4 linked regions of the Homo sapiens genome follow. The protein of the gene in region 1 interacts with the protein of each later gene in a biochemical or structural test. Each region holds a gene or a part of one and is shown in the gene's direction. Other genes may lie near its edges. The genes, in order: PHLPP1, BRAP, USP1 and SUGT1.

Region 1 (7,037 bases):
TTCTGAAATTTAAGTGGATTTCTGATGAATCTTTTACTTGTAAAGAAAACCAAATCGTAATACAGTAGCATTTGCAGTATCTGAAGACAATTTGTCAACTCGATGACATGGCTTTTAAAGTTTATGGTCCAGGAAATAGATGATTTTTTATGTAAGATCAACAACTGTATTCTTTTCTCCTTTAATTCATGTAATTTGTAAAATATTGTTATTTTACAAAAGCATTAAAAATAGGTGCCCTTTAACTACATGGAAGGAACTGTATATAAAAACAAGGGATGTATTAGAGTTTGAACAAATTTTATATGGAAAGAGTTTGCTTATGATTGGATATATCCATTGTGATAAGTGTCCACGGAAAGGTTTTGGGTGTCACAGTTAACAAAGTTTGAATCTGTGTTTCCCTTTGATTCTCTTCAAGAGTGTCTAAAATATTCTAATGGGTAATAAGCACTTTCTTTTTTCTCAAAACCTCATCTCAATATTAAAAAAGTCTTTCCTGGTTAAATCTTAAAATGTTTGGCATGATCTTTTAATCTTTTTGTTTTGTTCTTTATGAAAAGCAGTAATTGTTACCTCATTCTGCACTTACTGCCTTGTTTCTATATGTACAGCATAAATGCATGTATGCCTCTGAGTATGTGCTTACATATACTCAGATGTGTGGGGGTGCCACACAAAGTATCCACCCTATTCTTGAACATGAAGCCAGTGTACAGGTGTCCTAGAAGAAAAATGCCTGATTGTTGCGAAGTTGTCTAATTGCTTATTTTGGCTTTAAAGCAAAGTTGAGCTTATTTTAAGCCTAAGTTAATATACCAGACATCTCTGCTGTTATTCATTTGCAGTAGAACAAAATTTAGTGTATGGTGAATCCACTTGAATTTTTGCAAAGAAGTTCAGTTATTGATGAACAAAAGCGTAGTCTCATTTATGGAAACGTTGTCAGGACTCCACATATAGTGAAGGTTTGCACCAGGCTGGAAGTGATTCCTAGAAATGATCTCTGTGTTCCAACAGAATATAGGACACCTCAACAGGACAGAGTTACATTTTGGTAGTAGTTTTTTTCTGTAGGAAGAGGATAATTAATGTTTGTTTTAGATGACATCTTTTACAGGGTTTTTGAAAATTCTGTACCCCATTGGTAATTTTATACATAACTTATTTTTAAATTTATTGCTGCATGTTGTTTTGTTTACGTATAGTTGGGGTTAAGGATAGCTAGGAAGTTGCTTTCAAATTCTTTTGAATATTTTTCTGCATTTAAATTGAGCTTATCTACTGTCTTGAGGGTCTGCTCTCTTGAAGATCACCTTTCTGTTCAATTTTAGTATTTATAACCTGACTAGGGTTGTTTTTTAGAGGCTTTGAAAGCCATTTGTGGTTGCTTTGAATATTTAAATATTTATCTGGGTAAAGTAAAATGAAAGTCTTTAATGAGCGAGAAGGCCCTGGATAAAGGTACTATCTAATTACAGAGTTGTTAATGAAAACTTGGTTTGAAAATTGTTATAGCATCTACCAGGCCACCATTCTCTTAGCTGACTTAAGATATGGGAAAATTTAATTAGCTTTATCTGAAGTTACTTAAGTATTTAATATCCTTTTAAAATCGGACATCTTAAATTTTGCCTGAAAGAGAGTAATTATAGGTTAAAAAATTCAAGAACTTAAGGTTGCTCGACATAAGTTATGGACTCCTAAACATGAATGAGCTTTTGTTTTAGACTCTCTGGGGAGCCTTTGTCATTGATGTAGGGCAGCATTAAACTATATCTTTTTATATTTTTTGACTCTTTTCTCCCAGCACTTAGATCTGAGTAGTCTAGCAATTTCTGTTCGAATTTTAGTAATGACAAAGGGTGTTGACAGAATAAAGTGCACATTCACTGTACCTAGTGAATCTCGGACAAGGTATTTTTGTGTGTGACTCCTTGGGATTTCGCGGGAACAATCTTTTTATCCCTGTCATATTTTATTTATTTTCTCTTCTGGGAATGATCAAACCTTAATGTGGTTTCCTACATGCAAACCAAGAGGGGAGAGGTGGTTCAGCATTAAGCTATAATATTGACAAGCAGGTTCTTATTACTATAATTACAGCAGTATTGAGTAACGCGGTTCGAACGTGTGACACCAGTGTGTGCTTGAACAGTCCCTTTAATTTTCAGTACAGAGGCTTTAAATTTTTTTTTTAGTATTTTACATTTTTATATTTATATTTTATATTTGTTTGTTTTTGTTGTAAAGTACATGCCACCCTTCACTACTATGGCGTGATAACATCTACAATACATTGGTTTTTATTATCTTCAAACATCTTGAAGGGTTTTTACATAAATTATTTCATTCGCCCTTTCAAAAACAGTGTTAAGGAGGAGTCAGTGGCAATCCTCTTTTCAGATGGAGAAACTGATGCACAGAGAGATCTGACTCGTCGTATTTCCGTCCTCGGGAGGGCGGAGAATAGAGAGCTTGGGTATTTTATTTTGCAATTCGTATCACTTTCCATGAATCGATGCTAAATTAAATTTACACTTGAATTTTTCCCTTGGTTAAAAGCATTCCAAAAATATGCTGTTTTTGTTGGTAATGAGGTGGTATTATCCTCTAGTTCAAAGTGGTATTTCTTGTGAAATGTGGATGGTTCTGTTTATCATGGTGCCTTTAAAAATGTAAAGAACCAAGACGGACAAATAAGGAGACAGTATGGAAAGAGTACTGAAGTGTTCTAAATATCCTGGTTGCAAATAGTCATGCTTGGATTTAAGTTGATATGAATTAAAGTTTACGTAATAGTTCTTTATTCTCTTATTCAAGCATACCTATTTGTTAAACTGTAAATCTTCATTGGGAAGTAGAGAATTAACACTTTGCCTGAAAAGTGGGTAACTTTTGAGGGGTGTGGGTGTGTGTGTGTGTGTGTGTGTGTGTGTATGTGTGACAGTTCAGTTGCTTTAAAACATGGCTTTTAAAGTAACTGAAAATATTTCTCATTAAATATCTTATTTGCTTAAACTTATTATTAAAAAATCGAGTTGTCTTTTAATGATGCTTTCTTGATGTTATTGTGCTCTTGTATAATTTTTATAATTCATGTTATATAGTGCTAGAGATAGTAAGTTCTTCTCCTTGAATTTCATAGTTATTCCTAAATTCGTGTGTCTTTTGTACTCATTGAAGTAATTGTAGGGGCAGGAGATGAGTGTAAATGAATTTGTGTAAAGTTTTAGGTTGAAAGTTTTATCTTTTGGTTGCTATAAGATTATCAAATCACCCACCTTAAATGATTGATATATACAAAGATAAGTTATTTTTTAAGTGTAAAATGTTTTTGTTGTTTCTCATTCTCTTCTTAGAATCCTGAAATTAGCTTTTCATTTACTGGTAACATAACATTCACTGACATTGTATGTGATCTAAGCCTAGTATAGTCCTTGGCATTTTAGTTTAACATTTGTTGAATTTAATTTGTGGAATTTTGTTAAGCAGCTGGTGGTGTGTGCCCTGATTTTTCAGCTTCCATCCTGTTTGGGTCCCCAGGGATGTGTTAAACACACATACACACAGCGGCATTTCTCCCATGGCAGGAGATTTTAGATGTGCTACATACTATTAATATCTTCTATTTCACGTGAGTGAACTCTGGATTTTGAGAGAATAGCTCTCTCTGAAAGTTTTCTTAGAGTTAACAGGTTTCTCCCAACTTTTCAAAGGCATCTCGTACTTAATTTTGCAGTGAATTTAATGAGACATCTGTCAAATGAGGCATCTTAGATTTAATGATTTTGTTATGTGCCAGGGTTTAACATAATTCAGTCTATCTGGACTGGAGAAGGGTTTGATTGTACTGTGAAAGTCCAGAGATCCTGAAGCCGCTCAATAGAAAAACGATTCCTTTAAAGACGCCTGACATTTTGAAAAAGAGAAAGAGATGTTATCAAAATGTCTAAAACAGCCTGGGAAAATGAAGTCTTTTTTTTTCTTTAAAGTTCCACCTTCTAAACCCATTCCATCCCTTTAATCACATGCATCTGGTGGAACACTGGTAATGAGGGGTTTTGAATCTGGCCTGACGTCACTGTGATTCTACGGCAAACCCTTTTTTATACTTACCTTTGGCTTTCTAAAGATAATATAATTAAACAAAATCCACCATATGAATTCATTAGATATATTAGATATTTATAACCTAAGGCTGTATGACTGACTGGATTTGTATGAAACTTCAACTCCAGAAACTTATGATAAATTGAAACTCAAGTACTTAGGAAGAATAGACTTTAATGATACTTTGATTAAAAGATGTTAGTATATTTAGGTAACTGTGAAATAGCAACTCTTTGAAGATGTGTGATATTATGCTTTTTATCAAGCATAATAACAGTTACTGGATTAATGAAGTGTTGTTATTCTTTGACTTTAGAGTTGGAATGGTTTTGTTGTGTTACCATGACTTGGCCTCATATACTTTTTGGTATGTTAGGTGAAACAAGGCATAACCATTTTGTAATGCCACATGCATACTGAAGTAATTTTTTTCCCTGTTGTATTTTTTACATTTGAGATTTTTATACATCGTAAAGTGTGTTTAACAATAAAGTGTCTTGTGGAGGTGTAAGCCTAGTGGCCTCTGAGTTTGTGACCTAGAAGTTAATAATGAAAACTCCATAAAATACTTTGTTTGGAGGTTGCACATATTGTATGATTTTGGAGATATCAATACTTTAGAAAAACACAAGCAAAAAACATCCAGAATTTTGGCATATTTTTTTCTAACTGGAGCTTGGCTAAAAGTAAATTAGCCTTGCTTCTAGTTTGTGAAAGCATTCAGTTGAAGACTGATGAAATTTGAAATATTTGGTTTTGGACCATTTCAATAATGAGTGAAATCTAATTAGAAAGTGAAGTTAGAGAGAATTTGAATTGGTTGTAATTTTTTTAAAGGGTTTTTCTCACATTCTGTTTAAGCAGGAAGAGATTTGTATTTGTTGCTCTCTATTTCTTCTGAATCAGACATCTGAGGAAGAGCAGGTGGAGAATGAATCTTTTCATATACCTGCCTCAGTTAATAATGTGTTAGAGTGTTTGGGCTTTCTTTTCAAATACCAGGCATGTTTTTAAATACAGCAAGAGCTTGGCTGGTGTGTTGGGGGTGGGGGTTGGGTCAAAGTCACTCTCCTCTTCAAAAACAGAACTTTGGGAAACAATTTTTTCCTTTTATCTCACACTGTGAGAGAAAATGTACTGCTTTTTAGAGAAAGTAGTCTGAGAGTTGGGAAACTTGGCATGACTTTGGGCATTCATTTTAACCTACCCTGGGCTTTGATTTCCTCATTTGTAAGACGATGGGGTTGGAGTAGAGCGAGTCCAAGATCTCTTCCAACTCGTAACATTCTGAGGCTTCATTAGAGAGCCTGTTTTTTTTGAAGGGCTTTGAAAGTTGTAGTTGTTTTAAGTTCTGTAAGACATGGCTATGGGCTTAAAACTGTCAAATCCCCTGCCTTTTCTTATGGACTTGGACCTAATGTACACAAGTCAGCTGGAGGTTGCCAACCAAACAAAGCAGACCTCCTCTTTGGTGTAGATTAGGACAAGAATCGATGTTTGATTACCCCGTTCCCTGTCATTCCTACTCCTGAAGTAAAATTCAGCATGCCAGAGATGAGTATAAAGTACATCCTCTTTTAAGTTAAAGTGAAATTCTTAAATTAACTTAGCAAGATGCCTTCATAGTCTAGTTCATCAAGTTTACTCTAATAACTGTATTAGAGGGATACAAATGTGTAAAATTTGCTGGCTAGTTAGCTTTATTTATGGTGAGCTGTGTGCTTGCCTACCGGTGCTTAGAGTCAGTAGGAGAAAAAACATTTTAAGAAAATGGATTTTTTGCACTGTTACTTTGGACAGGTAATAGAATTTAGGATGTTGTAGAGATAATTTAGTCCAACATCTGTATTTTTATAGATGAGAAAAGTAAACCTGTGAGGTAAAGAATCTGGTCCAGAATCATTGGTTAAGTCAGTTACAGAGTTAGGACCACCACCTAGGATTTTGATGATCTGTCCAGTGTTCTTTTTTTCCCACACTGTGAATGTGTAATACTTACTGTCTTTGGTGGTTCTTTATATTAATACTATTAAAAATGAAAGTTAAAGAAATTGTGTGCTTTACACAGTTAGTCGTTTCTCTATTCAAGGTTTTTTCCTAGTTCTTTTCATTCTAATCAGTGCTTTTGAGGGGTTGCATATCACTTTGACAGATTGTAAGAAAGGAACTTCTGATGGAACAGGTGGGTATTTTAATTGCAGAGAGAGAAATTAGATTTCATCAGTGATGTTACCTTTGTGGGATGCATGATAGAACTATTGACAGTTGGCAGAGAAGAGGTACAGTGTTAGAAAATCAATGTTCTTAGTTCATTCAGTACTTTGAAGGTGAAATTGTTAAAAGAATAAAAGTGTTAGAAAAAAATCATTGAATTAAAAAAATAATTTGGGAGAAAAATTTAAGCATGAATTTTGAAAAAAATTTCCCTTTAAATATGTGTGTGTTGGCTGTGTGCGGTGGCTCACACCTGTAATCCCAGCACTTTGGGAGGCTGAGTCGGGCAGATCACCTGAGGTCAGGAGTTCGAGACCAGCCTGGCTAACATGGTGAAACCCTGTCTCTACTAAAAATACAAAAAATTAGCTGGGCCTAGTGGCGCACGCCTGTAATTCCAGCTACTCCAGAGGCTGGGGCAGGAGAATCGCTTGAACCCGGGAGGCAGAGGTTGCAGTGAGCCAACATTGCACCACTGCATTCCCGTCTGGGTGGCAGAGCAAAACTCAGTCTCAAAAAAAAAAAAAAATAATAAATAAAAAAATAAATATGTATGTATTAAAAAGATTCAACATTATCTTCTTTGAATTATTTTTAAAAAGATGTGTCAAAATTAATTGCAACTTAGCTTATTTTTCAGGTACATGTACGCAGTTCTACCTTTCTGTGACATAATTGAAACAACTTGTTCAGTATCTTTGGGCTTTTGT
Region 2 (7,037 bases), on another chromosome or scaffold:
TTTTGGCCAGACGCAGTGGCTCACGCCTGTAATCCCAGCACTTTGGGAGGTTGAGGGTGGATCACGAGGTCAGGAGATCGAGACCATCTTGGTTAACATGGTGAAAACCCATCTCTACTAAAAATACAAAAAATTAGCTAGGCGTTGTGGTGGGCACCTGTAGTCCCAGCTACTCGGGAGGCTGAGGCAGGAGAATGGCGTGAACCCGGGAGGCGGAGCTTGCAGTGAGCCGAGATTGTGCCACTGCACTCCAGCCTGGGCGACAGAGCGAGACTCTGTCTCAAAAAAAACAAATTAAAAAAAAAAAAAAAGAATTCTTTTTAATGTAAACTGTTGAATATTTGAAATAGCCCACTTCACCTTAATGGGTCTTGTGTATCTTCATTTGTCTTCAAAGAAAAACCATTTGCTACCAAAGTAAATCAGTATTTCGAATGTGCTTCTCTTGTTTTTTGTTTATTAGCTAGTTGCTGTAAGCATTTCCACCAGAACTTGAGCCAAATCATAAGGAAGCTGTTTCTTTTAAAATACAAACCACCACCAAAAAATTAAATGTACATATTAAGCATTTGACTATTTTTATTTTTTTAAAAAGTATAAACACCAAAAAAAAAAAAATTAACATTGTATGAAGATGGAAAACAAGAAGATACACTTTCTGTAACTTTGTCTGAGGATTTAAATTACTAACTTGTGAATCCAATTTAAATTGAACTTAACTACTGGCTTCCCCCACACCCCGCCCCGACCCAGACGGAGTCTTGCTCTGTCGCCCAGGCTGGAGTGCATTGGAGCAGTCTCGGCTCACTGCAGCCTATGCCTCCCAGGTTCAAGTGATTCTCCTGCCTCAGCCTCCTGAGTAGCTGGGATTACAGGTATGCACCACCATGCCCAGCTAATTTTTGTGTTCTTAGTAGAGATGGGGTTTCACCACGTTGGCCAGGCTGGTCTCAAACTCTTGACCTCGTGATCCGCCTGCCTTGGCCTCCCAAAGTGCTGGGATTACGGGTGTGAGCCACCGTGCCAGCCCCAGCTTTCTTACTAGTAAAATTACATGGTTGATTTTAAATGTATACATGTTGACCAATGGCCTCTCAAAAAGCACATTTTAGATACTGGAGTAGAAGGAAAGAAAATGCATCTTCAAACATTTTTTTGGAATCTCACCACATATACTTTGTGAGATTTGTATATTGTAGGGTGTTAGTTTTTGTATTTTTGTATTGTGTATGAGCTTTTTTTTTTTTTTTTTTTTTTTGAGACGGAGTTTCACTCTGTCTCCCAGGCTGGAGTGCAGTGGTGTGATCTCAGCTCACTGCATCCTCTACCTCCTGGGTTCAAGAAATTCTCTGCCTCATCCTCCCAAGTAACTGGGATTACAGGCACCCACGACCACACCCGGCTAATTTTTTGTGTTTTTAGTGGAGACAGGGTTTCACCCTCTTGGCCAGGCTGATCTTGAACTCCTGACCTTGTGATCCACCCGCCTCGGCCTCCCAAAGTGCTGGACTTAACAGGCGTGAGCCACCCCGCCCGGCATCTTTTTTAATGTGACAGTTAAACACATCTTTAAAAGCATAGTCACAGACAAAAGAAGCATACAGTATAAACATTTCCTTGAAAACTCCTACAATATTATATTTGGAGGCAGCTTCAGACTGTTTTATTGGTGGTAACTGCTCGCTGAGCTCTTTTAGTTGGTAATAACTCCAGAGAAGCATCCTGTGTATATTCCTAACACTTGTTCACTAGCATTTAAGTTTAGAATGAGCCCCAAGTAAAACAATGGAAATGTATATAGAACTCTTAGTTCTTACATGATTTAATTATATCAAAATACATGAATTTAACTTACTTTAATGTAGGCAAACTATCAATTTTTGTCCATTTTCCTGTTTGTTAACATACCTCTCCTAGATATTCTTTTCTTGACCCAAATGAAATATTAACCTAAGGTCAAGCTGGGAGAGAGAAACAACTGAGATGAATGTCTTTACTAAAATACCGATAAATTTGTCAAACTCAAAAAAAAATTGACGTGATAAAATTGGGCATCCTTTGTGCTGGCTGCTGCACGAGGCCTCAGTTTTAGAGATTCCTTTCTTAAATGAACGTGGCTTCTTGAGAGATTTCCTGTAAGTATCTACTCTTCAGGGACTGTAGGTTAATGTGCTTTTTCTCTGTCCATAAGTGTGTGCTCCCTGACCTTTGCCTAAGTAATTCTTTCTCGTCTTCTGGCTGGAAGCGTCAAGTCAAGCACTGTCTTAGGAATGCCTTTCCTGACCATCTAGACTGTCATGCCCCCTAATTCACACCCTGTTGTGGCTTCCTGTACTGTTTGCTTTTTAATTTGATTTTTGTCTCTCCCTCCACTAGATTCTAAACTCTGTGGGGGCAGGAGCTGACTGTTTTTTGGACTTAACGTATCTGTTTTTGCTCACCACTGTTCCACACCTAGAACAGTGTCTGTCTGCTGCACATAGCAGGGGCTCAATCTCTATCTGTACAATGAGGGAATAAAGAAAAATCAGTGTTGTTGGTGCTGTCATCACTGAGTAGAAAGTGTTAAGTTATAACTTACTCTATGGAAAAATCCTTCAGGTCCAGCTATTCTTTTGTTCCTTTGTGTTCTATTATAGTCGTAGACACTTAGAGCTTGAGCTAGGAGTCTGGTCACATTTGAGATTTATATGTTAAGGTTTTGACAGCAGTCTCCCTTCCTGGAATGTCAGTTCTGTAAGGGCAGAGATCTTTGTTTTGTTCACCGCTGTACTCCCAGTACCTGGCACAGTGCTGGAACACAGGAGGTACTCCATCCCTGTTTCTTGAATGAATGAATAAATGAATGAAAATATTACCAATTTAAATTACTTGCTTAGAGTAATGATATTGAGGATATCCTGCCAGGAGTCAAAAAAGCAACTAGAAAACTATTATTAAAAGAAGAAAGGCCTGGCACAGTGGCTCATGCCTGTAGTCCCAGCTACTGGGGAGCCTGAGGTGGGCAGATCTCTTGAGCCTGGGAGGTCAAGGCTGTAATGAGCCATGATTGCGCCACTGGGCTCCAGCGTGGGTGACAGAGAGCGAGACCCTGTCTCAGAAAAAAGAAGGAAAAATAAAGTATTGCTGGTAGATGAAGAGTGAGGCTTATGTGAGGTGTTTCCTGTAGGGCGCCAGCCTCCCAGTGATGGACCTGACTGAACTCCCCAAGTGCACGGTGTGTCTGGAGCGCATGGACGAGTCTGTGAATGGCATCCTCACAACGTTATGTAACCACAGCTTCCACAGCCAGTGTCTACAGCGCTGGGACGATACCACGTGAGTGCAGGGGCCGAACCCCTCTGTGTACAAGCCCATTGCAACCCTTCCAGAATTAAAAAGAGCCACCAGCAGAAATGAACCATTCCAAGTATTTGACTTTATTCAAGAGGTCCTTTTTCTCCTTCCCTTTCCTAAGTTCAGGGAATCGGCATTCTGAGACCAAGTCCTTTTTTAGTATGCTGATTCTGAACCCTTGTGGAATTCCCCAAAGCAGCATGAGTTGTTCTTTCCTTCCAAGAGCCAGAGAGTGAAAAAAAAAAGCAAAGCTTAGTTTGAGGCTCTCGTGCTGCAGTGAAATCTAGGTCTGGAATCTCATGTATCAGCTGCACTTGGTGTCTGCCATTCACTCTGGGCTTCTTATCAACTGGGCTACAGCAGCCTAATATTTTAGCTTTGCTGGGCTGTTGATGGCTTGGTGGCCAGTAGAAATAGCAGTTACTAAGTATGAGATCTACTCTACAGCCTCCTGATTCCCAACATACCAGGTCTTAGTCATAGGTGATGTTGCTACAGACAAAGAACAGGTAAGGCCTGTACCTTTTTTTTACCCCCTAAATCCAGGATGGTTGCTCCCTTTGCAGACTGCACTGTGGGACTTAACCAGAAAGGTGTATCAGATGCTGGCCTTCTGGATTTCCCAGTACAGAGGGGAACCCAGAAATGAAATCACACAAGTAAATAAATCACAGCCATAACCAGTGTTACAGAAGAGCAGTGTGCAGCATTGGGACTGAGAACTGGGGCCCTAATGAAGCCAGGACCACCTGAGAAGTGGCATCTCCAGGAGGGTAATTAGGAGTTAAGCCGGGTAAAGAGCAGAACCCAGAGAAGGCAGTGGGGGAAGGGGAAGATCATGTTCCCAAGCACAGAAGTGAGGAGGGGTGAAAGTCTACAGGAATCTCTGTCCACCCACAAGTGGCCTGGTGGCCGGAAGAAGAATATCAGCTTCACAGAGCGGGGGCCATGCCTGGCTTGCTCACTGCTGTGTCTCTCACACCTGGTGGGGGACGTGGCACACAGTGGTAGACACTGAGGAGCACATAAATAAACTGGGTCTCTGCAGCTTATCACTGCCCTGCTTATTTAGCTGGACAGGAGTCTTGCTCCAATTCCGTGGAGTCCTCAGTCAATTCTTAGGTATCATTTGGGAGTTTTCCAAGGAATTGTCCAGTTGCCTTGAACAAAGCCATACTGAGATATGTGCATTCCTTAAAGTGTTTACCTGTATCTTCAGTCCATCTGCTATACCAGTTAAGTTCTAGGCAATTCTTTGTTCCCCGCCACTCCAGTTTTACTTTTTTTTTGAGACAGGGTCTTGCTCTGTCACCCGTGTTGGAGTGCAGTGGTATGATCACAGCTCACTGCCTCCTCAAACTCCTGGGCTCAAGTGATCCTCTCGCCTCAGCTTCCCAAGTAGCTGGGACTACAGGTGTGCACCATCTCACCCAGCTAATTGTTTTTTTTGTTTGTTTTGTAGAGATGGGGTCTCGCTATGTTGTCTAGGCTGGTCTTGAACTCCTGAGCTGAAGCAGTGTTCCTGCCTTGGCCTCGCAAAGTGCTGGGATTGTAGGCATGAGCCACGATACCCATCCCCAGTATTCCTTTTGATATAAATTAACTGTTACAGAACCATAGCATTTTAAAGTTGGAAGTTTCCTCAGGGACCATTTTTTCCAACAACCTCATTTTATACAGGAGGAGGACACAGGCCCAAAGATAAGAATTTGCAAGCTCAAAGTGTCATGGCCAGAGAATGCCAGAACTGGGACTAGAATTCAACCTGTCATATGGGATGTAAGACATGCCATTTGCCCTCAGAATCATGCAGTTCATTTAATGAGTTTTGAGCCTTGGTACATGCATAGAACTGTGAGAGATGCTGAGACAGAGGAAGCAAATTCAGGTCCTCTTTGGGGTGGTTTGGTCTAAGAGAGTTTACACTTGGACATAAACACATGTGGTTCAGGGTGGAGATTGGAAGAGAGAATGATGGCATCCCCAACCAGGGGTACTCAGGAAGGGCTGCAGTAGGAGGCAGTGTTGGTCTTTTTGATAGAGATGTCAGAGAAGGCTTTGGGAAGAGCTCCCAAAGATCTCATCAGGAAAATAGGATAAAATAATTTTTTGCAGAGAAAGGCAGGAAGAATTTAATAAACTGTTAATTATTATTATTATTATTTTTTGAGATGGAGTCTCACTCTGTCACCCAGGCTGGAGTGCAGTAGCGTGATCTCGGCTCACTGCAACTTCCACCTCCCGGGTTCAAGCAGTCCTCGTGCCTCAGCCTCCCGAGTAGCTGGGACTACAGGCATGTACCACCACACCTGGCTAGTTTTATATTTTTAGTAGAGATGGGGTTTTGCCATGTTGGCCCAGCTGGTCTCGAACTGCTGACCTCAGGTGATCCACTCACCTCAGCCTCCCAGAGTGCTGGGATTATGGGCGTCAGCCACTGTGCCTGGCCGATAAACTGTTGATTATTTTTTAGTAGACAGATGAGGTAGTATATCATAGAATGCTAATTGTTTGTTTACAAGTTTATTCTTGTAATTTTTTTTTCTTTTCAAGATCAAATTTACATTTCAGAAAGATCGTTTTGATCATTTGGGCATAGTGTAGAGAATTAGATTTCAGAACCAGTTCTGAAATCTAATTCTGTTGTTTTTAGTTTTTTGTTTTTTTTTTTTTTTAGAAGGGCTTTTGCCACATTGGCCAGGGTAGACTTGGCTTCAAGCCATCCTCCTGCCTCGGCCTCTCAAAGTGCTGGGATTACAGATGTGAGCTACTGCACCTGGCCTGTTTTCTTATTCAACCACTTTCACAGCCACCACACAGACCGAAGGGATGAGACAAAGCCAATTTCTACTTTCTGCATTCTGCTTTCTGGCTACCATTTCTGTTCTTTCTTTGAGTTTGTCTTCTGTCTTCTCTTTTGATGCTAAAGGAAGAAGTGGACTAGATCCTTTCCTTTCTCTTACACAGATAGAGCTGTGTCATCTGTGACACAGTGTTCTTCCTGTTTATTCCATTTTCTTGGTTTTATTTACTTAGTTGGGTAACTGTTACTAGTTATAGCTTTTTTTTTTAGACGGAGTTTCGCTCTTGTTGCCCAGGCTGGAGTGCAATGGCGCAATCTCAGCTCACCACAACCTCTGCCTCCTGGGTTCAAGCGATTCTCCTGCCTCAGCCTCCCAAGTAGCTAGGATTACAGGCATGTGCTACCATGCCCTGCTAATTTTGTATTTTTAGTAGAGACAGGGTTTCTCCATATTGGTCAAGCTGGTCTTAAACTCCCGACCTTAGGTAATCCGCCCGCCTAGGTCTCCCAAAGTGCTGGGATTACAGGTGTGAGCCACCGCGCCTAGCCACTAGTTATATCTTGAGCATTGTTTCTTCCTGGTGCCAGTTCAGTCAGCCTCAGCTATAACCCACTTTCTGTCCTAGTTGCCCATCTAACAAAAATACTCATGACTAGTATTTAGTATTATTTTGTGTGGAGTATAATAGAAAACAGTTAATGGATTTTTTCAACATTGTTTTTATTGGCTTTTTGTAAATTGAGACATGAATGCCTGATAGAGCACTGGTATCTTCCACATGATGTTCACGGTGCAGTGAGATATCATGTGCATTTCAATAAGTACATTAACACCTTTGTGTTTAGCCAGGTGCGGTGGCTCATGCCTGTTATCCCAGTACTTTGGGAGGCCAGCATG
Region 3 (7,319 bases), on another chromosome or scaffold:
TCAGGCCAGAAGTAACCAATTTGCATGTAGAAATGGAAAAGAATACAGTTTTGCTAAAGGAGAAATTCTGCTGTAATCCAAGTGGATTAAAAGTCTCATAATTTGGGCGGGACGTGGTGGTTCATGCCTGTAATCTCAGCACTTTGGGAGGCCGAGGCGGATCACGAGGTCAGGAGTTCGAGACTAGCCTGGCCAACACTGTGAAACCCCGTCTCTATTAAAAATACAAAAATTAGCTGGGCGTCGTGGCAGGCACCAGTAATCCCAGCTACTTGGGAGGCTGAGGCAGGAGAATTGCTTGAACCCAGGAGGTGGAGGTTGCAGTGAGCCAAGATCATGCCATTGCACTCCAGCCTGGGGGACAGAGCAAGACTCCATCTCAAAAAAATAAAAATAAAAGTTTCATAATTTGAAGATTTAAAGGGCGGAAAAAAACCACACTTCTTCTATACCTTTAGACTGAAGTACAGTTGGCCCTCCACATTCATGGGTTCCATATACATGGATTCAACCAACCACAGATCAAAAAATCTTATGAAAAAGGTACACAAAGTTCCAAAAAGCAAAACTTGAATTTGCCACGTGCCAAGTGTTAAATACTATGTTAAATCCATGTGAATGATGTGTAGGCATTGTATTAGGTAATTAAGTAATCTAGAGATGATTTAAAGTATAGGTGGGATGTGCATAAGTTGTATGCAAATACTATGCCATTTTATATATGGGACTTGAGCATCCTCGGATTTTGATATCCATAACGGTCCTGGAACCAATCCCCCATGGATACCAAGGGATGACTGTACACAGAAACAGTGCCTGTGAAACTTTGGAAGGAAATATGCCTGGCATTTACCCACACAAGACTGACAAATATAGGATTGAGAATGCTGTGAACCTATTAAATCCCATTGTTTCCAAAGGGATTAGCTGTCATTAAGAGTGGGGTAACTGGGGAGCACACAGAAACTGGGAAAAAAGTTTCGGGGCTTAAAAACTCATCTAGGCAAGAACTGTGGCTAGAATTTCTCCCACAAACAACTGACTGAAAGCAAAAGAATGAGAAGCATATTAAATTTTTACATTAATCATATTGCCAGAGACACACCAAACTTCTGCTATTGCTGTTGACAAGCACAGTTGTGGAGGTGTTTGATTTTTCTGAAGCAGCATTAGCAGAAACCTCAGTGTCTAGCCACTTGTCCTGTGGGCCTTGACAGACGGGACGTAGGATATGCATGGCACTGGTGCAGATCATAGTGGGTATAGTGTGGTTCTAGGGTCAGCGGTGCACGCAGCTTTCTGATGGTGGTTTCCTAGGCATGGCAGCAGCAGTGTGATTCAGAGACGTCATTTCCTGATCATAGAAGAGTCATTGCTTCCTTGGTGGCCTGGTTCTGGGAAGACTTTGGGACTCATTCCTGAAAAACTAATCTAGAGCCTATTTAATCAACCCTCCCAAGTATTCAATATCTTTGTGTTTATACTAGCTAAAATGGATTCTATTTTCCGCAAATGAATCTTAACTGATACCACACATTGTGTACAGGAAGAATAGTGGCTGCAGACAATAGGATCTCAGGAATATGGGAAAGTAGAATTGCTTATCTGTTCTCGTAGAGTTTGAAAGTAGCAATAATTATGCTAGTACTAGAAAATGAGACACTGCCACTCTGTGGTGCACAATGGCTAAGACTGACCTATATACATTTTCTAATCTTGTCCTTGTGTATTTCGTGATCTGCTGGTTCAACATCTGTTTGTACGTTAAACACCTCAATCTTAATATTCTAAGAACGATGATCCTTCCCATTGAGCCTACTAAGACCCCCATTTTAGCAAGGACCAACACTGAGTTGCTCAGGTTAAAAAAAAAATCGTTACTCTTTGTTTTTTTTTCTTTTTTCGGGTGGGAGGGTGGAGGGCAGGGCCTCACACTGTTGCCCAGGCTGGAGTGCAGTGGTGCATCTCGGCTCACTGCAGCCAGGGGATCCTCCTCCCTCATCCTCCCGAGTGGCTGGGACTACAGGCACGTGCCACCACGCACGGCCAATTTTTGGAGTTTTTTGTAGCGATGGGTCTTGCCATGTTGCCCAGGCTGATCTTGAACTCCTGGGTTCAAGCGGTCCACCGGCCCTGGCTACCCGACCTGTTTTTTCTTACATTATCATACAGCCAATCCATCAGTAGAGCTCGTTGGCTGTGCTCAAAATATATCTTGAACCCTACCAGTTTTCAACATCCCACCATCTTATTCCAGACTACCATAATTTATTCCTTGGCTTATTGAACCAGCATCTTGGCTGACCTTTCCGCTGGTACTTTTCTTTTTTTGAGACAGAGTTTTGCTCTGGTTGCCCAGGCTGGAGTGCAGTGAGGCGATCTCGGCTCACCGCAACCTCCGCCTCCTGGGTTCAAGCGATTCTCCTGCCTCAGCCTCCGGAGTAGCTGGGATTACAGGCCTGCGCCACCACGCCCGGCTAATTTTGTATTTTTAGTAGGGACGGGGTTTCTCCATGTTGGTCAGGCTGGTCTCGAATTCCCGACCTCAAGAGATCAGCCCGCCTTGGCCTCCCAACGTGCTGGGATTACAAGCGTGAGCCACCACGCCCGACCCTGCTTGTACTCTTGAAGGTCAACGTGTAATCCCGCCACTCCCCAGCTCAGAATCATCTAACGACTCCCATCTCCTTACTCGGCTTACCCAGGGTCCTGCCTTTCTCACTCATCTCATCTCCTCCCATCTTATTTCCCAAATTGACTGCGCTCTAAGCGCCCTGGCCTCCTTGCTTCTTTTCAAAACACCAACCACATTAAGCTTCAGGACGTTTGTAACTTGCTGTTCTCTCTGCCCGCACCATTCTTCCCTCAGATTCCTCCAAGCTTTTTCATTCAGCTCTGCTCAAATGTCAACTCAAAGAGGTCTTTCCAGGCTATCGTATCTATCACTTATCTTAGCGTCACTTGTATCTCCCTCTCCAGAATGTAATGCTCCTTTATGACAGGGAATGCCTTTACATCCCTCGCGCCTTGAAAAATGCCTGGCACATAGTAGGCACCTTAAAAATACTTGATTAAATGGATTTGGGCTGAACGTATCCTGCTTAACTGCAGCACTTGAGCTGAGGTCACCTCACCAAAGCAGGCACACAAACACAAAAGGAAGCACACAACCAGATGAGGCCTGCCTGCCGCTCCTGAACCCTTTGGGAGGGCTCGCGCGGGAACCCTGGGAAGCTCCCGCGGCCGGAGCTGGGCCTGAAACTGTTCTTTCGTTTCCTCCTGCGGCCGAGAAAGGGAAGAGGTAAACAGGCGAAAATGAGGCGAGCAGGGGCTGAGGACCGGGCCTCAGCTCTACAGCATTCGCCTGAGCATGTATTGTTATCCGTGGCAGCGCCTTGTCTCATTGGATGGCCCTAGGCCTAGTGTGGCCGCGACTCCGAACTGAAAGCCCAAGCGCGGCGGCGTCCAGCCGGGCAGCCATTTTCCGAAGCTGCTCTCTTGGTAACCCCGCCCGGGCGCGTACGCACGAACGGAGGCGGGGCTTACCGCGAGGGCCTCGCTCCGGAAGCCGCACCCTCCGCGGCGTCCCACCGTCGAGGATTAACAAAACGCCAAACAAGATTTTAACAGTCGGCAGCGAAAGCGCGCACTCGAGCGCCAATGAGAGCGGAAGGAGGGGCACCGCGCCTGAGGAACACTCCGTATGTCGAACAATGATTGGCTGGAGCCCACCTTTCTTCTTTTTTGCTATTAGATGGGCTTGCTGCTCCCGCCCATCTAATTGGCTTTGGTCTAGGTACTTCTGATTGGCTTCCCCCGGGCGGTGGGAGGCGCGGTTTTGGGGATTGTTCATCATGGATTGGTGAATTTGGGCTCCTTCTCGAGGTGGTGGCCCATCCCGTCTGCTCTCTGTCCCGTCTCCCGACCCGTACGCTTTTCCCTCAACTCGCGCGCACGAATGGTTAAAAAAAGGGTGTGAGGCTCGAGCCCGCCAGCCAGGCCGCTAGCACCTCGCGCGCGCCCTCAGCGAGGACCCGCACGAGCTGCCCGGCTCTGTGCCTGCGTTGTTTGAAACTGTGGAACCCGTTAGGCTTTTGGGGAACTACAGTCCCAGCTGGCTCCGGAGCCCGTGCGTGCCAGGGGCGAGTGGCCGTCGCGAGACGGCTCCTGCCTTTCGTGTCTCTGCAGCGTGGAGACTGGAACCGGCAATTTCAAAGGACGCCACGTTCAATCGCAGCGCTGGCGCGGGCGGAGGCTAAAACACGGGGGTCCTGAGACTGAGGAAAACGCGCCAAGTTCCCCTCGGTGGCGGAGTGCTAAAGACCCTAGCGGTTCAGGCGTTCGGCGAGCGGGGCCGCTGCTTGTTGCGCTCCTGGCTCTCCCGGGGCGGGCGCAGATGGGCGCCGCTCCCGGGATGTAGTTGGTGTTGGTGCAAGACGGGAGCGAGCGGCGGTCGGGGTTCCCGCTCTTGGGAGCGGATGGTCACTCCCCCGCGGGGAGGGCGAGCCGACCAGATTTTCCTGGGGCCGGGGACCCGGCGGGCTCGGGGCAGGGACTCACCTGTCGCACCCACACTCATTCGGGTTGGACTTGCCGGCGTCACCGCCGCGGACTTCGCTTTGGGCCATGACCAGGTAAGGAGGGCCTGGGAGGAGGGGCCGGCTCCCGGGCGCGGGGGCAAGTTCGGCCGGCGCGGGAGAGGAGCTGCCGGGGAGACCCCGGGACCGTGTTGGCCTCGCACCCTGGTCGACCTGCCAGGGGGAGCCGTGTGTGCCTCGGGCGTGGCGCCTGTCTTGCCGCCGCCGGGACGCGAGAAGGCAGGTGCGGGCTGGGCGTAAATAGGCCAACTCCGCGGCGAGGGCGCCCGGCGCGGGGGTGTGGGCCGAGGACGCCGCCGCCAGCCTCCCCCGACCGGGCAGCCTGGTCGCTGCTCGTCCTTCCAGCTTTCTTTCCGTTCCCGAGAGCGGTGAAGGATGGGGAGAAAGAAACGTTTCCACGCAGGTTGCCCTGTGTCGGTAATTGCGAAATTTTACCGCGCATTTTCTTTCACTTACACTTTTTCAAGAAGTGTTTAGAACGCCGCGTGTCTTAAACCTTGGCGAAGATGTCCTTGTAGATTTTTGTTGAAAAATCGGAATCGAGTCGTGTCATCTTATAAAGAATTTAAAACTATTGGGACTGAGTGTTCACGCTGTCAACAGATAATGGTCGATTCGTCGTGCTTTCTGCGAAAGTTGATTTAGTTACAGGAGAAATATTTTGGATGTAACAGCCCCCCAGTTACAAGGAAAGCCAGGAGCAAGAAATAGCAAGGAAGATACTGCACCTGGCAAAATGTTACATTCTCGGTGTGAGCTTTGCTTTGAGGGGCTAGGAGGTTTGGTTTTTTGATTAAGCTGACGATCCGCTATTTCACCTGCCTAATCATTCTTCCCTTCTGTGTAGTCTGGTTACTCTGTCGGTTTGAGATCCAGTTTCTGTCATCCATTAAATTGGCTCTCGAGAAAAACCTTTTATCAGAATCATTAATGCTTGGCGATCCCTGAGAACTTAGCGCAGGTTGGTTTATCATTCAGAAGACAGCGCTTCCTCAGAAGCATTAGGTAGACAGGAGAGTAAGTGAAGTTGGAGACAGAATGGAGAGATGGATCAGCTTTCCAGTGCTTCCTGATTTGGGTCTCAGAAATGGTTTCAGTGTGCTGAGTTCAGTATGAATTCCTAGATCAGTGTCAGCCATGTGAAATGCTTATTAAGGATGAAATTTGAGTGAGTCTTGTGTAGTTCATTTTATTACTCTGCATTTTAAATTTGAAACTCGTTGCTGAAGTTTTGGGCTTTAAGTAATTTTATGGTAATACTCTAGTCAGATAATTTTTCCTCCCATGTCCTGAAAAATAGGCCTGATGTAGAAAATATTAACTCCTACACTCCTACAAATGTTGCCATTTTTTTTCACGTGCAAGTTTTACTTTAAAACAGGGTGGGAAAGTTGCAAATGGCAAACCAAATCATCTTTTTTTCCTACTCAAAGCACTATTTTTAAAATCCAAAGTTTTTTAAAAAGTTTGGAAAACGAGTATTGTGGTTTCTAGTGCATTAAGAATTGGATTTACACAAAGTGCATCGAACAGTTTTTTTTATCACGGTCTCAACTTTGCTTGTGTTTTATCTTTCACTTACGGTTTTAGGTATAACTTAACACCATCTCTATGCCTTGAATGCAAATTATTCTTTAATAAGCTTTTTAGGTACTTTATTTTCATATATCCATGTTAATAACTAGAAAAGGCATTGGAAGAGAGGACTCATCGTCCAGCACTACTTTGATTTTCCATTCATCCTTTCCTACCTTGTACTTGAGAATTAGAGGTGGTAGTGCTCAGTCAATATTTTCTGAATGAATCATTATAATGAAATATTAAGTTGTTTTTTTTTTGAGACTAAGTCTTGCTCTATGGCCCAGGCTGGAGTGCAATGGCACGATCTCGGCTCACTGCAGCCTCCGCCTCCCGGATTCAAGGGATTCTCCTGTCTCAGCCTCCTGAGTAGCTGGGATTACAGGCGCCCGCCAGCACGCCCGGCTAATTTTTGTATTTTTAGTAGAGATGGGGTTTCACCATGTTGGTCAGGCTGGTCTCGAACTCCTGACCTCGTGATCCACTCGCTTCGGCCTCCCAAAGTGCTGGGATTACAGGCGTGAGCTATCGCTTCCGGCCCTTGAAATAATAAGTTTTTACTACTTATACTATTTTACTGTAGGTCTACTAAATAGGATATTTTGTAATGCGACCCTTAATCCATAGCAGGCTGATTTTAAAAATTCAGTAGCTTCTGTTTTTTGTTCTTTAAGAACAGTGTGGTATGCTTCTTCATTTAAGCAATAAATATTGAGTGCTTATTGGCAGGCATTAGGTTTTCAAATGTTAATTTCTAATTTGTACCATTCCCTTGGTAAATTTGTTTTCAAAATTGATGATTTTGTTGCCAAAACTGATAACCAAAAACTAATGAAACTTTCTCTGTGATTAACAGATATAATTGGTGATTACAACTTTCCTCTATAAATTAACTCTTGACACTCCTTGGGATTTGAAGAAAAAAATGCCTGGTGTCATACCTAGTGAAAGTAATGGACTTTCAAGAGGTAGCCCTTCAAAGAAAAACAGACTTTCCTTAAAGTTTTTTCAGAAAAAGGAAACTAAGAGAGCTTTGGATTTCACAGATTCTCAAGAAAATGAAGAAAAAGCTTCTGAATATAGAGCATCTGAAATGTATGTATCTTACATTTCTGTACTTTAAAAATTCTACAGTAAAGCAGC
Region 4 (3,611 bases), on another chromosome or scaffold:
ATCAGACACTGAGCTAGGTGCTAGGTACTAGGTAAACAAAATTCCCTGCCTTCATGGAGCTTAGCTTGTGGTGGTGGAAAGAAGCCCTCAGCCTGAATACTCAACTTATGTCTGCCGTTTATTCCTTAACACATTAAACTATAGGTAATAGCATATGTTAGTCTAATCTTTGTTTAGCAAAGCTATTTCTTGTTCTGGAATATAAGTACAGTTACAGCAGAATAAGTACCAAGGCAAGATTGGAGAATGACCGGTTGTGAACAGGGACTTAGGAATATGTGTAGCATAGGATTTTATTTTAGAGTTGTTAAAATCAGATCAACAGAGCATGTTTTTATGGGCCATCTGACAAGACTAGAGGTAGCTTTGGAACCTCTTATTCCCTGGAATGCAAACATGTATTTGCATTTCATCCACTGTCAGTATGAGGAGACAAAAACGAAGTCAGGATTTTGGAGCTGGAATGGATCTTAAATACTATGTAGTCCAAACGTTTGGTTTTACAGATGCACTTTTTCCAGAGTGCTGTCATCTCATATACTTTTTTCTTCATACAGGTTTTTAATGTAACTCACTCAGATCGTTGGTGATAGACTCTCTCTTAAAACTTATTTATCCTAATCTTTTTTTTTTTTTTTTTTTTAAGAGACAGGGTTTTGCTCTGCTGTCCAGGCACACAATAGCTCACTGTAACCTCCAACTCCTGGAGTCAAGTGATCCTCCTGCCTCAGCCTCTCAGGTAGCTGGGACTGCACTACTAGTGCACTAAGCTAATTTTTAAATTTTTTTTGTAGAGACAGGGTCTTGCTGTGTTGCCCGGGCTGCTCTCTTAACTCCTGGCCTCAAGTAATCCTCTTGCCTTGGCTTCCCAAAGTGCTGGGATTACAGGCGTGAGCCACCATGCTTAGCTGATTTGCCCTAATCCTCTGCTGACATTCTGATATCGGACAACTAAAATTATAACATTGGGCAGCTATTTTGTATGATATATAGGGTAGTGGTTCTTAAGCTTATTGGTGAGTAACCTTCACTTGGGAAGCTTATTTTTAAAAATGTAGACCTTCATTACTTTCCTCCTGAGATTTTGAATCAGTACCTTTGAGAGAGGGTCCAGTAAATCTTTGTTTTGAATGAACTGATGGTTTTGAAGCAGGTGACCTGGAGGACTGCATGTAGAACACAGTGATGTCAAGGAGTAAAGGAGAGAACAGAAGTGAGATTAGCACTAATCACCTCTAATGCCTTATTTCCAGTAAAGTTTAGAGAAGAGGAAAAGCTACTTGGCTTGCTCCTTTGAAGGTTTTGTTTCCCTCTTAACACAGAAATTAAAAGGTAGAGGAGAGATGCTGAATGATGCTTTTTTTCTTCTTAATCTTGGGGGGTCATTATGATTAAGTTATTGAATCCATATCACCGTATGACAGCACATGATGAAAGAAAATCAAATGTTTGTTTCAATCAAAGTGAAACAAAATGAGAATAACTATTTGGGCAAAACACTTTTATCACTGCTAAGATATTACTAGAACTGAGCAGAGAAATACTCAGAGAGAGCCATGGCATAGTACTAATTAATAATGGGGTACCATTTAGCAACTGGAATATTCTCCGATGATGCCTGTTTAATTACCCATAGGTGCTAAGTGAATGTTAAAAATTACGGTGCTGGTTGAGTAGGCCGAGTAGAATTTGTGTTAGGGCACATCCCATGGAGATCTTTTTTACTGCTTAATTTTTTGGAGTTACCTCAGTAACTTAACAGGCAGGAATATGGTTTTAATGGAAAGGAAACCATTTGCCTTTAACAGCATTAGTCCCGCTAAGAGAAAGTTTTTGCTTGTCTAGTTTATTACAGGTCTTTGACTTTGTCAGTATATGGCAAATTTAGTATAAAAGATGATTAATTATCAAGGCTGATGAAATATAGGCAGCTGAAAAGAAAATTCTTAGCAATTCATACCTTAGAAGGAACCCTGAAGGACAGGACGCCATAGAAATCCTGTTTTTTTAAAAAAGTAATTTCAAGTAAGTTTGCAAATGCAATGCTAGTAAAAAGTATATAGAGGTATGTCTTTCACACTATCTTGTTACTATTAGAATTTTTGTAGCCATGTGCAGAGGAGAGAAAAGGTGTTGGATTTTCTGCAGTTCTGATTCAGTTCTAAGAATTTGGTGTGAAAAGAATGTTTGCAAAGGAGCAGGCACAAAGGTGAGAACAGGAATACGAAACACAACATCTGTAAATGACTAAATTCAGAGGGAATTTAGTGGGGCATATCTCTTAAATGGTTTTGAATAATTTGGTGTTTTAACCAATGACTTAATTTAACTTAGTGGGTATACTGTTCCCAGTCCCATTACTGATTTTTATTCCTCTGTGATAACATACACCCAAATAAAGACTGCTATGTATTTGACTTTAAAACTATAAAGATGTAAAAAAGGTTCACTAAGCCAAACACCTTAGAAAATAGCCTCAGCTATTTGCTATGTTTATATTATACCTGCATAAAAGTATTTATGTATAGATGTACTTACCTTACACAGTAAGTACCTAAAATTTGTAAATTGAATACTTTTGAATGTAAGCAGTTGAAGTAAAACCTGTAGTGAGTTCTTCAGTCAGTCAACACTAAACCTGTTTTGTAAATTTGATGCTAGTATTATACTGGACTTTCTCAAAATGAAGTACACCTATATATGCATATAGTATATGAGCATGTGTATTTGTACAAAAGCCCTTCAAAAGGAGTTCAGCTTTTATAAACACCAAAACACTCTCTGCCTGTAAAATGTTTTTGCTGAAATTTGTATCATTAACTCTCAAATTTACATCTTCATGTTTGAGATACGCTTTTAGGACTGTCTATGCATGTAGACTTTGGTCAACTCTCTCCTCCTCCCTCAATAAATCAGTTAACTTAAAAAATATATTGTGACCATTTTTATAAAATACATGTTCATAAAACAGATCAACATATTTAGCTTATACAGAAATAAAATTAAGTCAATCCACTCACAAAGAATTTCTATTTTGTAAAAATGTAGCTTGTATTTCAGTATAATAAAATCTGATGTAAGAAACTGTTGAGTGGGTTAAGTGGTTATTCTTAGTATTATATCTACTTTTTTAGTGTCACAGTTATTTGAGGTGCTGGTGGAAGGGGAGGTGTAAAAACACACAAGTTTTTGCAGCCAGAAAATGAAAACATTTTCCATGTGCTGACTAAATGGCAGCTGTCACATATTTCCTTCCATTCCGAGTCAAACTAGGACCTTGAAATCTAACTTGAGATGTTCCATCAGGATTGGTTTGTACCACTACTGAGAATTAAATGAGTATCTAATGAAGTACCAATAATACACATAAGTCTATACACACATACTAACATTTCAGTCAAGATTCAGCACAGCAAACTGGGCTGTATTTGCAACTTTTAGACTGGCCTGGTTAAAAGTAATTTGAGAAATTAGTAGTACCAAGTTGTGAAGAAATTTGTAATTCTTCCCTGTTGCCCTCTCTTCCTTTATTGAATGCTCATCTGTCCACTTCTCTTTCAAAGTAGACCCTTATTTTCATCCTTGAATACAATTTAAGTCTCCTTTGTCAT

The links.
Region 2: the proteins of PHLPP1 (region 1) and BRAP form a complex in vitro, tested with the Homo sapiens proteins (one study listed by BioGRID).
Region 3: the proteins of PHLPP1 (region 1) and USP1 form a complex in vitro, tested with the Homo sapiens proteins (one study listed by BioGRID).
Region 4: of the proteins of PHLPP1 (region 1) and SUGT1, one has a biochemical effect on the other in vitro, tested with the Homo sapiens proteins (one study listed by BioGRID).

The regions. Positions count from the first base shown.
Region 1 is NC_000018.10:62,718,519-62,725,555, forward strand, and holds part of PHLPP1 (PH domain leucine-rich repeat-containing protein phosphatase 1), read left to right. Parts: intron 1-7,037. UniProt on the Homo sapiens protein: Protein phosphatase involved in regulation of Akt and PKC signaling.
Region 2 is NC_000012.12:111,661,920-111,668,956, reverse strand, and holds part of BRAP (BRCA1-associated protein), read left to right. Parts: intron 1-317; exon of another isoform or gene 318-722; intron 723-1,029; exon of another isoform or gene 1,030-1,237; intron 1,238-1,541; exon of another isoform or gene 1,542-2,026; intron 2,027-3,169; coding exon 3,170-3,318; intron 3,319-7,037. UniProt on the Homo sapiens protein: Negatively regulates MAP kinase activation by limiting the formation of Raf/MEK complexes probably by inactivation of the KSR1 scaffold protein.
Region 3 is NC_000001.11:62,432,767-62,440,085, forward strand, and holds the start of USP1 (ubiquitin carboxyl-terminal hydrolase 1), read left to right. Parts: upstream 1-4,282; 5' UTR 4,283-4,634; intron 4,635-7,032; 5' UTR 7,033-7,101; coding exon 7,102-7,271; intron 7,272-7,319. UniProt on the Homo sapiens protein: Negative regulator of DNA damage repair which specifically deubiquitinates monoubiquitinated FANCD2. Also involved in PCNA-mediated translesion synthesis (TLS) by deubiquitinating monoubiquitinated PCNA.
Region 4 is NC_000013.11:52,697,826-52,701,436, forward strand, and holds the end of SUGT1 (protein SGT1 homolog), read left to right. Parts: 3' UTR 1-3,084; downstream 3,085-3,611. UniProt on the Homo sapiens protein: May play a role in ubiquitination and subsequent proteasomal degradation of target proteins.